2 separate regions of the Homo sapiens genome follow, and region 1 is linked to region 2. Evidence: fine-mapped expression QTL. A gene starts in region 2. The other region holds a variant in brackets. All regions are shown on one strand. Distances are from middle to middle.

Region 1 (8,387 bases), 40 kb before region 2:
GCCCTGGGGACCTGACGGCATTGGGGAAGAGGGGAGGAAGTGCTGTTAGAAGGCAGCCCTGCCTGCCATATGGCTGCAAGGACACACACCGCATCATCCGGGCCCTGTGAAGACACCTTGGCGCTCTCCTGTCCTGGTCACCTGGGGAGGCCCCACTTCTCACCCCACCCCAGACATCCAGGCCCCTCCGCGACACCCAGTCCTTGGCCTCCTAGGGCACAAGCTCCTCACTGCTTTCTTGCAGGGCCTGGAATGTCTTCTGGGGCCCCGGGCTCAGCGGCTGCTTTGAACTTGGGGGAAGCCTCCACTGTCCCGGCTCAGCAGGCTGGGCAGCCCTTGGCTGGGGTCGGGGAGGCTCATCCGATGGGCCCAGCACTGAAGGCTCTTCCGCAGGCAATTCCTTCTTGGGGCTGTGGCTGGGGACCTGGGAAGCACACCCCTTTTCCTCCAAGGTGACGTCTGCACGGGGACAACTCTTGCCAGCATTACAACTAAAATCCTGTTCAAAACACATTCAAGTTAAGTGACTCCCGGGGTGGCAACCTGTGTCCTGACTCCGAGGGGACATGGGACAGAAACGAGGTTAGAGTCAGCCAGGGGAGGAGTTAGGAGGTGAAGAAGGAATGGTCAGGTGGGGGAAAGTGAAGTTTCCAGAGATTCCTCACTGGGGGGATCAAGTCCCCATCATCCGCATGCTGCTCAGCCCGCTGCCCCACCCTCTCACCAGCGGCCCCGCGTGGCTGGGCTCCCGGTGGATGCCCTCGAGCAGCAGCACCACCTCCTCCCCATCCCTGAGCGGCTGCCCCTGCAGGCGGCCCAGGAGGTGCGGAGGCAGCACACTCAGGAACTGCTCCAGCACCAGCAGCTCCAGGATCTGTTTCTTGGTGTGCAGAGCCGGCCGCAGCCAGTGGCCGCAGAGCTCCCGGAGCCGGCTCAGGGACGCCCGTGGCCCCATGTCCTCCTGATACTGGAAGCATCTGAACAGCTGGTGAGCCACCTCGGGCCTCAGCCTGGACTCTGGTCGCCTGGGGTCCTCTGGGCTGACAGCCTCCTCCTCCTCCAGCTTGACTTCCCCCAGCTGCTCCTGCTCCACGGCAGCTGGGACTGATTCTCCAAGCATCCTTCACTGCGGGGATGCCTCCCTAACGCCAGCCCCGCTCTTGGGTCTCTCTCCTCTCCTCCCACACCTGCGAAGGTGAACACCCTGGGTTAGGATCTGCTGCGAGGAAGCTGGCCCCATACCTGGGTCATCCATGTTAAAAGACACCCAATACGCAGACCCAGAGGAATCGCTTTTCTCACTGGGTAATGGCTCACGAGGGCAGGACAGCCCCCGGTCTCAGGGTTACCAACAAAGCAAAGGCCAGAGAAAACTGACAGTTCTGTATTATCATCCCTCCTTAAAGCATTTAGAGATTTACATCACTTGGCCGGGCACAGTGGCTCACACCTGTAATCCGAGCACTTTGGGAGGCCGAGGCGGGTGGATCACGAGGTCAGGATATCGAGACCATCCTGGCTAACGCGGTGAAATCCCGTCTCTACTAAAAATACAAAACAATTAGCCAGGCTAATTTAGTCCCAGCTGCTGGGGAGGCTGAGGCATGAGAATGGTGTGAACCTGGGAGGCGGAGCTTACAGTGAGCCGAGATCGCGCCACTGCACTCCAGCCTGGGTGACAGAGCGAGACTCAGATCAAAAAAAAAAAAAAAAGAAATTTGCATCACTTTTCCCAAGTGATTAAAGTGACCATCCCTGAAAGAGAAACACCCTGCCCTTCCCTTCTTCCTGATGTAGCCACTGGGAGCACATGGCACCATCAAGATGGATCCTGGCCAAAAAAGTTTGTTTTTTAAAGCTTTTTTTTTTCTTTTTTTTTTTGAGATGGAGTCTTGCTATATCACCCAGACTGGAGTGCAGTGGCATGATCTCAGCTCTCTGCAGCCTCCACCTCCCAGGTTCAAGCGATTCTCATTCCTCAGCCTGGGTTTACAGTAGCTGGGATTACAGGCCTGTGGCAGCACGCCCAGCTAATTTTTGCATTTTTAGTAGACACAAGAGTTTCACCATGTTGGCTGGGCTGGTCTTGAACTCCTGACCTCAAGTGATCAGCCCACCTCAGTCTCCCAAATTGCTGAGATTAAGGCGTGAACCACTGCACCAAGCCTGTTTTTTAAATTTTTAATTTAATTAAGTAATTTATTTATTTTTTTGAGACAGGGTCTCACTCTGTCACGCAGGCTGCAGTGCAGTGGCGCAATCACGGCTCACTGCAGCCTTGATCTGCTGGGCTCAAGTGATCCTCCCGCGTCAGCCTCCCGAGTAGCTGGGACTACAGGTGCATATCACCATGCTGGGTTAATTTTATTTATTTTTTGTAGACACGAGTTCTCATTATGTTGCCCAGGCTGGTCTCAAACTCCTGGGCTCAAGTGATCCACCTGCCTCAGCCTCTCAAAGTGCTGGAATTACAGGCGTGAGCCACTGTGCCTAGCCCAAAAATACCTAATCTCAATCCAACCAGCCTTTATTTATTTATTTATTTGAGATGGAGTTTCACTCTTGTTGCCCAGGATGGAGTGCAATGGCAAGATCTCGGCTCACCGCAACCTCCGCCTCGCGGGTTCCGGTGATTCTCGTCCGTCAGCTTCGTGAGTAGCTGGGATTACAAGCACGCGCCACCGCATGCCGCTAATTTTGTATTTTTAGTAGAGATGGGGTTTCACCATGTTGGCCAGGCTGCTCTCAAACTCTTAACCTCAGGTGATCCGCCCGCTTCGGTCTCCCAAAGTACTGGGATTACAGGCATGAACCACCCCGCCCGACCTAATGGTGGCCTTTAGATCCAACTTCCAATGTTTAGGGCCTTGCAGGGAATATGGAACAAGTCAGACCATCTCTCAAAGAAATTGGCCTGAGTTACTCAGTGTCATAAAAAGTAAGTGCCTGTAGGAGGCGCTGGTGGACAGGAGCCCAAAGAGTCCTCACAACTAAGTGGGTGAACCTAGATTGGATCCTCATTCATTTTTCTTAAAGGCTTTAAAAGACATCCTGGGGCCAGTCGGAAAATGGTGAGTATGGTGGGGATACTAGATGATAACAGTATGACTACCCATTTCTGAGATGAAAGTCTAGTCTTGTAATATATAGGAAATGGCTGAGTTCTTAGAAGACGCTGAAGAGTTTGGAGAAGGGGCCTGATATATGAGATACATATATGAATGTTCATTTCACTGCTCTTTCAAGTTCTCTGGATGTTTTCGAATTTTCAAAATGAAAGGTTAGCGGGGCTGGCTCACGCCTGTTATCCCAGCACTTTGGGAGGCTGAGGCAGGAGGATCACTTGAGCCTCAGGAGTTCAAGACCAGCCCTGGGCAACATGGCACGACCCCCGTCTCTAAAAAAATTAAAAATGTAGGGCAGGGTGTGGTGGCTCACACCTGTAATCCCAGCACTTTGGGAGGCTGACGCAGGCAGATCACAAGGTCAGGAGATCGAGACCATCCTGTCTAACATGGTGAAACCCCGTCTCTACTAAAAATACAAAAAATTAGCCACGGGTGGTGGCGGGCACCTGTAGTCCCAGCTACTCGGGAGGCTGAGGCAGGAGAGTGGCGTGAACCCCGGAGGCGGAGCTTGCAGTGAGCCGAGATCATGCCACTGCACTCCAGCCTGGGCGACAGCGAGACTCCGTCTCAAAAAAAAAAAAAATTAAAAATTTAGCCAGTTGCTGGGGGCACTGAGTGGCTGACGCCTGTAATCCCAGCACTTTGGGAGGCCGAGGGTGGATCACCAGGTCAGGAGATCGAGACCATCCTGGTTAACACGGTGAAACCCCGTCTCTAATAAAAATAAAAAAAATCAGTCGGGCGCAGTGGCGGGTGCCTGTGGTCCCAGCTACTCAGGAGGCTGAGGCAGGAGAATGGCGTGAAACAGGGAGGTAGAGCTTGCAATGAGCCAAGATCGCGCCACTGCACTCCAGCCTGGGCGACAGAGCCAGACTCCATCTCAAAAAAAAAAAAAAAAAATTTAGCCAGTCATGGTTGTGTATACCTGTGGTCCTAGCTACCTGGGAGGCTGAGGTGGGAAGATTGCTTGATCCCAGGAGGTTGAGGCTGCAGTGCAGTGAGCTGTGACTGCAACATTGCACTCCAGCCTAGGCGACAGTGCCAGCCCGTCTCAAAAAATAAAAAATATAAAATAAGTCATCTATAGCCACCAGGAGGCACTGACATCCTCCCCCAACCTCCTCCCAATCTAGGGCTGTGGGGCTTCCCCTTCCTGGTCTGGTAGCCCAGTACTACCCATGGGGAACCTCCGAAATTTCGGCCCCACCCACAGGGGACTCAGTTCAGCCCTGCTCAACTAATTGAGGCTGGATGATTTAAGCTTTTCTGAGCAGAGCAGAGCAGGCTCATATTTTTGTTTGAGTCTCTTTTACATTTTATTTCAGGCAGGGGTCATTTTATAGACATGGAAATCCAGGCTCCTGCCCTCTGCTTTCTGCCCTTCCTGTTCTCTAGCCTCAGGGCTACAAGTGAACCTCTCCTAGAGCCTCCCACCCTCCACTCCCAGTTGGCACCCCAGGTAGGGGGATGTGAAGAAAGCCTGAAGCACCACTCCACTCACCTGAATGGCACAGGGCACTGTCCAGCATGCAGTGGCTGGCACACAGTAGGCATCCATGAGCACGAGCTATTACTGTTCTCATTGCTGCTGATTACAACACCAAGCACCGCAGCAAACAGTGACTCACAGTTCTGTTGGGCCCATCACTGACCCATTCTACAGCCGAGGACACTAAGGCTCAGCAAAAAGGTAACCCAGTGGCCGAGTG[C/T]AGTGGCTCAGGCCTGTAATCCCAGCAGTGTGGGTGGCCGAGGTGGATGGATCACCTGAGGTCAGGAGTTCGAGACCAGCCTGATCAATATGGTGAAACCCTTGTCTCTACTAAAATTACAAAAATTAGCCGGACGTGATGGCATGCGCCTGTAGTCCCAGCTACTCAGGAGGCTGAGAGAGGAGAATTGCTTGAACCTGGGAGGCGGAGGTTGCAGTGAGACGAGATCGTGCCACTGCACTCCAGCCTGGGCGACAGAATTAGACTCTGCCTCAAAAAAAAAAAAAAAAAAATTATCCGGGCATGGTGGCATGCATCTGTGGTCCCAGCTGTTCGGGAGACTGAGGCAGGAGAATCTCTTGAACCCAGGAGGCAGAGGTTGCAGTGAGCTGAGATTGCATCACTACACTCCAGCTTGGGCAACAGAATGAGAATCTGTCTCAAAAAAAAAAAAAAGTAACTCAGCCTTGGGCAGCCTCTCCCTGGTAACGATGGCCTAGTTGAGAGCCTTGGACAGTTTGCTGTACCCCCTTAATATGAGCCTGAGGGTTCCCTGAACCTCCTCAGGTGGGGTGGTGTTGTGGTACAGAATGGGGGATTTTAAGCTTAGCCGCTGAGAAGGAGGGGAGGTGATTCTAGAACATGACCCATCTCTCCCAACCTCCCTGCAACACACAGTATCTTCCAAGCCCCTCACCCCTACCCCGGCTCCCCTGCATCTCCCAACCTCAGCCACCTGGGGAAGGACTCTGACAAAATGGAACGGGAAGTTCCCTGCCCCAGTCCCATCCCATCCAGGTGTTGAGGGGCTTCCTAGCGTTAACCCTCAAGCTCCCAGTTTGGGAGGTGGATGGGGACAGGGTGGGGCCAGATAAGCGAAGACAAAGTGAGAAATCCAGATTTCAACCCCTGCATGTGTGAGAGTGTAACCACCCCCGAGCCGGAACTACGCTTTCCTGCCCTCTGGCATCCACTCCAGGCAGCCCCCATCCTCCCACCCCATCTCTCCCCACTAGGGCGATGGAGTGCCTCAATCACAGATGAGCGTATTTCTCTGCCTGGCCTGGGAGTAGGAGCTGTGTCTAGTTCAATGAGTGTTCATCCAGCACTTGAAGTTGCTTCAGTGTCTGTTAGCAGAAATTAGGGAATGGCAGTGATTCTGGCCATCTCGAAGGAAAGCATGTAACAACGTCTAGGACAGAAAAAGTCTGTGATAAATGATCAGAAAAATGGTGTTGTGAGGCCGGATGCGGTGGCTCATGCTTATAATCCCAGCATTTTGGGTGGCCAAGGCAGAAGGATTGCTTGAACCTGGGGGGTCAAAGCTGCAGTGAGCCATGTTCGCGCCACTGCACACCAGCCTGGATAAAAGGCGAAGACCCTGTCTCAAAAAAAAAAAAAAAAAAAAGAAAGAAAGAAAGAAAAGAAAAGAAAAGAAAAAAAAAGAGTGGGGGAGGGGGAAGAAAATGGGATTACGTTTCACTGGTTTTTAGTAGCATGCACAAAATAACAAGAAAACTAATCACTGCTCATCCATTGCCGTGCAGGAGCAGCGGGCAGGTACTGAGTGTCTGGCGATTAAGCTCATTTCATCCCAGTCCAGCCCACGCACGAAACAATCACTTCTCCCTTTGCCAAGTGCAAAGACCAAGCTTTGCACTTGGTGACATGCTCAGGGTCACACCAGGTGGAGCCAAGGTTTGCTTTAGGCTGAGAGTGTAGGTCTAGAACACAGTGCCAAAGCTCTGAAACAGAAAAGGAACTGATCTCCATCCTGCTCTGTGCCATTTTCCTAGCCTTAGCCGAAATATCACAGCATGAAACAGAAAAAAAATGAAGATTCCAAATTTCAGCTCTCAGGGCAAGCCACACAGGGAGGCCGGAATCTCCAGGTGAGATCTCTCCAAAAGGTTTCAAAGAGGTGGAATTCGAGACAAGTTGGCTTCAGAGAATCTCTCCCTCCCCCCAGATCTCCAGGACAAAAGCTCTGTTAATATGCACCTCTGTTGGGGGTGGGCTGGGTAGGGAGGCAGGCAGAGGCTCTACAGCCACCATCCAACATTTGAGCAGCTTAATTTGGAGCCCGGGGTGGAGGTGCTGCCACGAGACCCACCCAGGTCACCTGAGAGCCCAGAGTTGGGGAAGGCGGCAAAGGTGGGGTCCTCAGCCGGGAACACTCCCTTTCTCCCTGGACACAGTTGGCAGCTGCCTGATTTGTTGTTTGTTGGAGGGGCCTCCCTCCGCGTGCTGGGCTGAGTGGACAAGGCCCATCAGTCCACCTGGGAGCACGTGAAGCCAGCCTTCTTCAATGTCACAGGAAGTTCTGCGATCTCCCTCGTCCCCAACGCCCCCATCGCGACAGGTCCACCAAGCTGGCTGGCACGAGGCTCCCCAGCAGACCCTCTACATCCTCCCAAGACTCTTCCAGCCCCCACCCCAGCACCAAGGCCTGGAGCCTCCCCTGCTCTCTCCAAGCTGCTGCGAGCTCCTAGCACCCGTCCTGGCAGCCTGCACCCCGACCTCCCTCCAACTCACCACTCGGAGTCCCCACTACACAGGCAGAGATGCTGGGGGGTTTTCTGAGGACTCCAGGGCCAAAGCCAGCCTCCGCCAGCCTGGGGAAGGGCTCTGGGAAAATGGAACAGGAAGTTCCTTGCCCCAGTCCCATCCCATCCAGGTGATGAGGGGCTTCCTAGAGTTAACCCTTAAGCTCCCAGTTTGGGAGCGGGATGGGAAGAGGGCGGGGCCAGTGACATGAAGACAAAGTGAGAAATCCAGATTTCAATCCCAGCCTGTGTGAGAGTGTAACCACCTCCCAAATCAAGACTGGCCTGGTGCCCCTTGCAGGTCTGCCCGTCTTTCCTTTGGGCTAAGAGCTGCCATTTTTAAATGCCCACAGTGTGCTGGCTTCTTTGCTAGGCTTTTCATTCACGTGACTACTCTTTGCAATGGCCTCCTGTGTGCCAGGCACTGTTACAAAGCAGGGGCTAAGGACACAGAGAGAAACTGAAGGAATGAGGCCCTGCTCTCAGGGGCTTACATTCTAGGGCAAAGGAGCAGCGACGGTGCTAGGAAAAAATGGAAGAGGAGGATGTGATGGGGCAGAGTTTGCTCCATCTACACGGTCACCTAAAGTCCTCCCAAGTCCTGCCAGGTGGCTTTTGTCCCAACTTTACCGATGACGAAGCAAGGGCTCCCCGGGAGGGAAGTGACCTAACCAACAGCGTTTGGCCCCAAACTAATTCCATCCCTGTGCTTAAGGTGCCTTCTTGGGTTGTGCCCTTGGCTGCAGCTGGTGCCTTCCTGAGCGTTCTGAGCCCCCGGGGAGCCAGGACCACCTCTCAGGTGTTGGCCGTTCCCCCGGCCTAGACCCCTCGGTCCGTTGGGGCCAGGACCCTCCTGACTGGCTCATCTGACGGGTCTTTGTTTTCCTGCACTTAACACCTGAGCTCATCCTGTTCCTACTTCAGTTGTCTAGTGCTCCCTTCGTACGACGGTCTTTCTCCTTGGTCTGCTCTGCATTCCCCGCGTCCCGCGCCTCGCTCTCCCA
Region 2 (8,215 bases):
TATAATTTTATGCAAATTTGCCATATACCAGCAATGCTCAATAGAAAATACAGTTCATGTGCCACTTACCAATGTATGGCCTCTCAGCCCAAACACATCCTTTTCGTTCTGCTTTGTGATACTGAGCTGGATCACATCTAAGCTTTGGGTGAGATCCAGTGTGATACCCAGCTGGACCCTGTATACAGTTCCTTGCTAGCCAGCTTGATGTTGTTCTTCGCTAATACAGGGCGATGGATGAACACTGTCAGGTCAGAGCAGGAGGGAGGGGCTGTCTTCTCCACTGTGGCCAGCGGAGGGCAGGAGAGGTAACCAGCGGCCTTCAGTTCCACTGTCCTCACCTTGGTCCGGCTCCTGCCCTTTCCACTGTCCGCTAGCTGTGAGTTCTCGGGGCACCCACTCCCTCTTCTGAGGTCCAGTCTCCACCTTGAATTGAAAGGGGAAGGGCTCTTTCGTGTTTCCAAGTTTCCCTCCTTTTTACTTCCTCAGTCCTAAGGGCACAAGTTCCTTCCTGCAGTTGCTATTCTGTAACTCTTAGAAATCTCTCTTACCAGTTGGGTAGTTAACCATCTTTACAACTGACCAATTATTTTTATCAAATTTTCTCTTCAAAATAATGGTGTGGCCGGGCACAGGTGCTCACGCCTGTAATCCCAGTACTTTGGGAGGCCGAAATGGGTGGATCACCTGAGGTCAGGAGTTCGAGACCAGCCTGGCCAACATGGCAAAACCCCGTCTCTACTAAAAATACAAAAAATTAGCTGGGCGTGGTGGCGGGTGCCTGTAATCCCAGCTACTTGGGAGGCTGAGGCAGGAGAATTGCTTGAACCCAGGAGGCAGAGGTTTGCAATGAGCCGAGATCGTGCCATTGCACTCCAGCCTGGGCAACAGAGTGAGACTCTGTCAAAAAAAGAGAATATTCCAATGAAAATAACAACAGACAATTCACAAAAGGATAAATAGAAATAATACTGGAAAAAAAGAAAACATATCCAGCTTCTCTAGAAATCAAGGAAATGGTAACTATATTCATGGAATTTCTCCCATTGGGCTGTTGCACAGAATGAGCGCAAGACGTAAAAGACTTAGCTCAATGCCTGGCATATAAACACTCTATACATGGTAACTATCATGATTTAAAAGTTTAATAGGATGGGTGCAGTGGTTCTCACCTGTAATCCCAGCACTTTGGAAAGCTGAGGCAGGCGGATCCCTTGAGGTCTGGAGTTCAAGACCAGCCTGGCTAACCTGGTGAAACCCCATCTCTACTAAAAATACAAAAATTAGCCTGGTGTGGTGGCGTGCACCTGTAATCCCAGCTACTAGGGAGGCTGAGATGGGAGGATCGCTTGAACCTGGGAGGTGGAGGTTGCAGTGAGCCATGAAATTGCACTACCGCACCAAAAAAAAAAAAAAAAAATTTAATTACTGTGGACCTTATGGGGACGCTACATCAAGCTGTTTCCCAATTGAATTGGAATGCCACAACAACGGCTGAACACTGTAAATGTCCAAATCTGGAGGAACAGAGGAAGGTAAACATTTGATTCTCAAGTGGAAGTTCAAAGCATTACATTCTTTCTGGAGGACAGTTTGGAAACATGTACACAAAGTAATCTGGCAATTCCATTTCTAGTTTTTCTCAGGGAAATGTTCAAGCAAATGAATAAAGGTGTACGTAGAAGCATATCTGCAAATACAGAAAGATGGAAAAAATCTAAATGTCCAAGGGTGGGGGACTTAAAATATGAAAATTCCGCCAGGCACGGTGGCTCACGTCTGTAATCTCAGCACTTTGGGAGGCCGAGGCGGGCAGATCACCTGAGGTCAGGAGTTCGAGACCAGCCTGACCAACACGGAGAAACCCCGTCTCTACTAAAAATACAAAATTAGCCGGGCGTGGTGACACATGCCTGTAATCCTAGCTACTCGGGAGGCTGAGGCAGAAGAATCGCTTGAATCCAGGAGGCGGAGGTTGCAGTGAGCCAAGATCGCGCCACTGCAGTCCAGCCTGGGTGACAGAGCGAGACTCTGTCTCAAAAAAAAAAAAAAAATATATATATATATATATATATATATATACACACATATATAATATATATTCACAGGCATATAACTGTCTGAACAGTAAAACTGTAAGAACACACTAAAACATGAATAGTACTTATTCCTGGATGGTCGTATTAGAAATGTTTTTTACCTTCATTCATTAAACAAATATTTACTAAGCATCTACCATGTGCCAGGCACAATTCTAGGTGCTTGTCATAGGGCATTAAAAAGTGTCTGCCCTCATGAACACTTATCGTTGAGTCGTGGGAAACACGTATATGTCAGGTAGTGATAAACATTAGGGAGAAAAGTTAACGCCGAGCACAGGTTGTTTACAGAGCTGGGGAAGGCCTCCTTGAGGGGGTGACATATGAGCAGAATGAGGGAGCAAGCCTTGTGGCTATCACGAGAAAGCTATCTTTATGGTTTTCCAATTAATTTTCTAAATTTTCTCTTCCAAGCATGCAACACCTACATAATTAAGACAAAACAAACCAAAAAAACTCTTTCCATTTATGAAAGAGATCTGGAGCCTGAAATCATCTCCGGGTCGAGGCGTGGAGAGAGTGGGAGAGGATCCGAGGGTATGGAAAGGACCCCGAGCCCCCCTGCTCTAGATCCCTCCGGGCCGTGGGACCCCTGACGCCCAGCAGCAACTCGTGGACAAAGCAGCTGGTGAGAGAACGCGGGACTCCGGCCAGGTCAGTGTCCCGCTTGCCGCGTCCTGCTAAGGCGACCCGAAGACAGAGGATCGCCGCAGGAGGCTCCGCGCCCCTTACCCGAGGGCACTTCCCAGCAAGCTCGACGCCTCTCCAGGGAATTGGGAGGAGCGGGACCCAAGAGGCTAGAAAAGAGTCTCCCCGGCCCGAGCTCCACGGCCCGCGGCCTTTCGGCCCTCACCTACTAGTTGGCAAAGAAAGACCGTGGCAGAAGGAAGAGGCCGCTCCAGCGCATCCCTTCGGGCGGAGCAGAAGCTCCACTTGTGGCTAGGCCATGTGCCCTCTCCGTTCCTCGGGCCAGCCTTGGCTTCCCCTTTTTGTCGCTCAAGGGCCAGGGTCGCAAGGAAATGTGAAAAAAAAGCGGAGACAAAAGAGAACGAGGTAAATCTAGATGCAGAGCCTCGCCTTTCCTCCCGGGTGCAGGTGTATGACGCGTATGGAGTTTCTGTCTTCTAATAGGCAGCCTGAGAATTCTTCCTGTTCATTGGCCATCGGTCATGGAGAAGGCGGGCTCAGTGGACGAACGGCTTTCTGGGAGCTGGGGAATGCTTGCGTAGCGTAGTTTCCCAGCGAGCCCCGCGAGGACTTCCGGCGCCGGGAGCTCGCGGCGGAAGTGGGATCTCCTGGGCCGTAGTGGGCGTTGTGTGTTTCGGGGGCGGGGGCGGGGGCGGGGGCCGGGGCGGGGACGGGGCCTCTGGCCGCCTGGCTCCAACATCAAGCACCGGGCTCCGAGTGGCCGGGATCAGCGCCCCGAGGCAGAGGCCGGAGGGCGCGCGCACTGCTAGGAAGTGCTGGTCCCCCGCGCCGCTCTGCCAGCTTGGTCCCCCGGCAGACGCCCCTGTACGATCGCCGCTCGCCCCGCGGGCGAGGCTGCGGTGGACAGCGCGGGGCTCCGGCTGGCTCGCCTTCCCGCCTGCCGTGTCCTGCTGAGCGACCCTGGTGAGTCCTGGCCCTCTTCGAGGAAAGTCTTCTTCGAAGTCACCAGAGGATGAGAATGGTGCGCGCACCTTTCAGGGGTCTTGTGAGGAGCAGAATAAATAAAGTGCTTAGGATGGACTAAAGAATTGGAAACAACCCGAATGCATCACTCGAGTATTGATTAAGAAACTAGAGCATATCCATACCGCGGAAGCTCATAGTGCCGCTAATGTCTGTGCAGTAAGGTCTCATTTATGTAGAAACACATCAAGCACCTTTTCTCCCCGCTATGGATGACTTTTTTAGTAAAAGCACAGGAAAAGGTCTGGGACGTCATTTGTCAGACTGTTAAGTCGGGGGGTACAATGGTATTGAGGAAGGGAGAGTTTTACAGATTTCTATATTGTTTGAATCTTCCCTTTTTTATTAAGATGGTTTGTATTTTTTTCATTTTCTTTTTACTTTTCTTTTCTTTCTTTTTTTTTTTTTTTTGAGATGGTCTCACTCTGTTGCCCAGGCTGGAGTACAGTGGTGCGATCATAGCTCATTGCAACCTCAAACTCCTGGACTCAAGCAATCTTTCCTCCTCAGCCTCCCCAGTAGCTGGGACTACAGGAGCCCCACCTGGCTTTTTTTGTTTTTTGGTACAGATGGCGTCTCACATTGTCTTCCCAAAGGGGTCTTGAACCCCTGGCCTCAAGCAATCATCCTGTGTCTGTCTCCCAAAATGCTGGGATTACAGGCATAAGCCACCAAGCCCGGCCAGTTTGTATTTTTATTGTTGAAACAAAAAATCGATTACTGAAAATTGCATAATACACTTTTCAGTAGAGAGTAACAATGTAAGGTATAAATGTGTCATACATTTATATGTACCTGTGGATAAATGGCTTTGGATGGTGTCTGTAAGCCCTTCTGTGACACCTCAGGGCCAGATGTGTTTTGGAATTCAGAGGTTTTCAAATTTGAGAAAGATAATATAGTGCACAGACGATATATCAAGCACATCTCCAGAGGGATCTGGGGCAACACTAAATAATGAAACATATCAGTTAAAATTTTTTAATTAGGCCGGGCGCAGTGGCTCACGCCTGTAATCCCAGCACTTTAGGAGGCCGAGGCGGGTGGATCACAAGGTCAGGAGTTTGAGACCATCCTGGCCAACATGGTGAAACCTCGTCTCTACTAAAAATACAAAAAATTAGCTGGACGTGGTAGCTGGTGCCTGTAGTCCCAGCTACTTGGGAGGCTGAAGCAGGAGAATCGCTTGAACCTGGCAGGCAGAGGTTGCAGTGAACTGAGATTGCGCCACTGCACTCCAGCCTGGGCGACAGAGTGAGACTCTCTCTCAGTAAAAAAAAAAAAAAAAGATATTTAATTGATGTATAATGTGCAATACAGAAAAACACACGAGTGGGTATAGCTCAATGAAATTTTATAAACTGAAGATATATGTTATTAATATTTCCACCATAATTTTGAACATTTACATTTAGTGGAATAAATTGAGATTATAAATATGCTTATATCAGGTCAGGTGGTGCTGCCAAATGAATGACATTGGGTTTTGCTGTCAAAGAGTTATGAAACACCCGGGTTTTGGATTTCTGGCTTTGGGATGAGAGCTTGTGGGCCTGTGTTAATAGGAGAGACAGTCACATGAGCAAGGCATTACAGTAAAGCCTAGAAAAGGCTTCAGGGCCATGAAAGGATGGGGACTGGATGGCTCTTCAGCCTGGGGTTTGCTCGTGTATTCCACATCCTTCCTCCTCAGTCCTGCCATTTTGCTCTTTCCCCAGGAGTACACATCCAGATGCCAGCCCAGCTACCACAGGGGATCCCTCTGGGAGACTGAAAGTACAGGTTCTGGGGCCCAGGTTGAAGCCGACCAACCCTGAGCCTCAGGCCAGGGGAATGGCAGCCCCCTTGGAGGCCCAGGACCAGGCCCCTGGGGAGGGAGAAGGGCTTCTGATTGTGAAAGTGGAAGATTCCTCCTGGGAACAGGAATCTGCCCAGCATGAGGATGGCAGGGATTCCGAAGCCTGCCGCCAGCGCTTCCGGCAATTCTGCTACGGGGATGTGCATGGGCCTCATGAGGCCTTCAGCCAGCTCTGGGAGCTCTGCTGCCGCTGGCTGCGGCCCGAGCTGCGTACCAAGGAGCAGATCCTGGAGCTGCTGGTGCTGGAGCAGTTCCTGACAGTGCTGCCAGGGGAGATCCAGGGCTGGGTGCGTGAGCAGCACCCGGGAAGCGGTGAGGAGGCTGTCGCCTTGGTGGAGGACCTACAGAAGCAGCCAGTGAAAGCCTGGCGACAGGTGAGGGGCCCTTCCACATCCAGGGGCACCTGGATGGTATCTGAGCTCGAGAGAAGTGGGTAACCTGCAGAGATAAGTCTCCCAGAGGCTCACAGGGTAGGGGAGACACAGAGCCCCCAGGAGCAGGCACACAAGCACAGTGTGCCATGGGTGCCTTTCTGAAAGATGCGATCCAAAGTAAATGTGATTTATTTTTTGTGGCTTTGGAAGGCAGCAATAGGGCTGAAGTGCGAATGTTCCAGACAGGAGGTTTTAGCTCCATGCAGGGTCTGCTGATGTTTATTTGCATTTTGCTCTAGGCCTGGCTCTGGGGACACAAGGGTGTGCATAGAGCCAGCTCCAGAGTGGGGCGAGAAGGTGGAGCTGTCCGGGGCCTCTGCTACCTTGTGGGATGTTGGGTCCTTCACATTGGATGCATCTGGGGAGGTTCTAATGAGTGGCTGGGGGATGGGGTTCTGCCTTTGGCAGGAGGGTCCCCAGCTACCCCCTTGCTAAGTGGCTGTGATTCTGGCCTTTCAGGGCTGGTTCTTGCCTCGTGAATGATCGGGGAGCATCCTTGGGCACACAGCATTACCTGGTATCACATTCTCCTCCGGACTTTTCCTGGGGCACCATATTGGTCTCCTTCCCACACCCCAGCATCCTGAGGGTCATGTCCTGTGTCTCCTTCCCAGGGAGTAAACTCTGTCTCCCCCGGTCTGGTCTCGGGCTGATGAGCATGTTGTGGTTCCTGCACAGGATGTGCCCTCGGAGGAGGCGGAACCCGAGGCTGCAGGCCGGGGATCCCAGGCCACGGGGCCTCCCCCGACGGTGGGGGCACGGAGGCGGCCGTCTGTTCCCCAGGAGCAGCACAGCCATAGCGGTGAGTAAGCCTCCGTTCTTGTGGACAGTCGAGTGGCTGGGCAGGGACCTAGCTTTGTCACCGGCGTTGCCCTAAGGGTCACAGGCAGGACAGCTCCCTCTGTGAAGTCCAGGGCGTGTGTGCATGCGCACAGGCTGGGGAGGCCATAGGCGTCGGTGTCAAGCCTGGGCTGGCCTTTCTAAGGCTCCATTCTTCTCCTTCAGCCCAGCCTCCTGCTCTTCTTAAAGAGGGTCGTCCCGGAGAGACGACGGACACCTGCTTTGTCTCTGGGGTCCATGTGAGTCACCAGTCCCTTTGTCTTCTTTAAGGCACTTGGCCCTGTTGAGTTTGTAAAATGGGACTTGCTGTCCCATCAGGCCTCTTTCATCTGACCCATCCTGTCCCCGCCAGTGCTGCTGGGAGGCCTGAGCCGGGTCTTCTCACCCCATTCCAGGGACCTGTGGCATTGGGAGACATCCCATTCTATTTCTCCCGGGAAGAATGGGGCACCCTGGACCCTGCTCAGCGGGATCTCTTCTGGGACATAAAGCGGGAGAACTCCCGGAACACCACCCTGGGTAAGCACCCAGGGCCTTTGGGTCCAGGCTGGCCGCCCCCGATTCTGCTGGAACTTCAGTCTTGTTTCCCACCCCATCCTTAGCTGGTTCCAAAGCAGGCTCTCCCTAGGTCTTGCCAGGAGCCTGAGTAACTCCTTTCTTGGCTGATGATCAGTTTTTGTGCGTTTCCACATGCAGCATGGGACGGCGCCGGCGCTGCCCAGCCCTGCAGTTGCTCTAAGGGCAACTTCTCCTTTGAGTCTCACAACCTAGTGCATGGAAGTATTGTCCCCATTTTACGCATAAGGGACCTGAGACTCAGGTCAGTGGATGCTGAAGGGACACAGCTGGGACTTGGATCAGGCACAGTTGTGAGGCCACCTTGGGCTGCTAGGAGCAGGGGTGCTGACGGGGAACCCCAGCTGCTCACCAGCCTGGGCCCCTGCTCGTCAGAACTGCACTTACCAGGTTCCTCTCCATGCCAGGCCCCTTCTCAGCACCATCAGGGATCATCTTGTTCAGTCACACTCCCAGGAGGATGGGCTGCGACCTCTGTCCAGATCTGTGTTGAGTTTGGAGAACTAGAGCCTGCGTGGTGAAGGGAGCCACACTAGCTAGACCAGTTTGGCTCCTCAGTTTCCGACTGTGACGGTTGGGAAAAATTTTCTTTCTTTTTTTTTTTTTTGAGATGGAGTCTTGCTCTGTCGCCAGGCCGGAATGCAGTGGTGTGATCTCAGCTCACTGAAACTTCCACCTCCCGGGTTCAAGCAATTCTCCTGCCTCAGCCTGAGTAGCTGGGATTACAGGCATGAGCC

What was found. PIP is the estimated chance that this variant, and not a neighbour inherited with it, causes the effect. A credible set is the group of variants that fine-mapping cannot tell apart.
Region 1: its variant is the best candidate, but not a certain one, in a credible set for the expression of ZNF213-AS1 in whole blood (INTERVAL, PIP 0.77).

Annotation. Positions count from the first base shown.
Region 1 is chr16:3,091,818-3,100,204 of GRCh38, forward strand. ZSCAN10 (zinc finger and SCAN domain containing 10) reads right to left here and starts at 7,477. Exons shown (of 6, transcript NM_032805.3): 1 at 7,373-7,477; 2 at 725-1,187; 3 at 232-499; 4 at 1-11. The coding sequence starts at 1,120. RefSeq lists enhancers at 897-1,484, 8,230-8,279 and silencers at 1,170-1,363, 2,855-2,924. The variant C/T (reference allele first, on the strand shown) is at 4,838.
Region 2 is chr16:3,131,678-3,139,892 of GRCh38, forward strand. ZNF213-AS1 (ZNF213 antisense RNA 1) reads right to left here and starts at 3,205. Exons shown (of 6, transcript NR_110900.1): 1 at 2,953-3,205; 2 at 1,173-1,265; 3 at 342-426. ZNF213 (zinc finger protein 213) reads left to right here and starts at 3,352. Exons shown (of 6, transcript NM_004220.3): 1 at 3,352-3,710; 2 at 5,489-6,002; 3 at 6,741-6,864; 4 at 7,068-7,141; 5 at 7,298-7,421. The coding sequence starts at 5,604. RefSeq lists enhancers at 2,933-3,102, 3,113-3,302, 6,787-7,287 and a silencer at 3,413-3,642.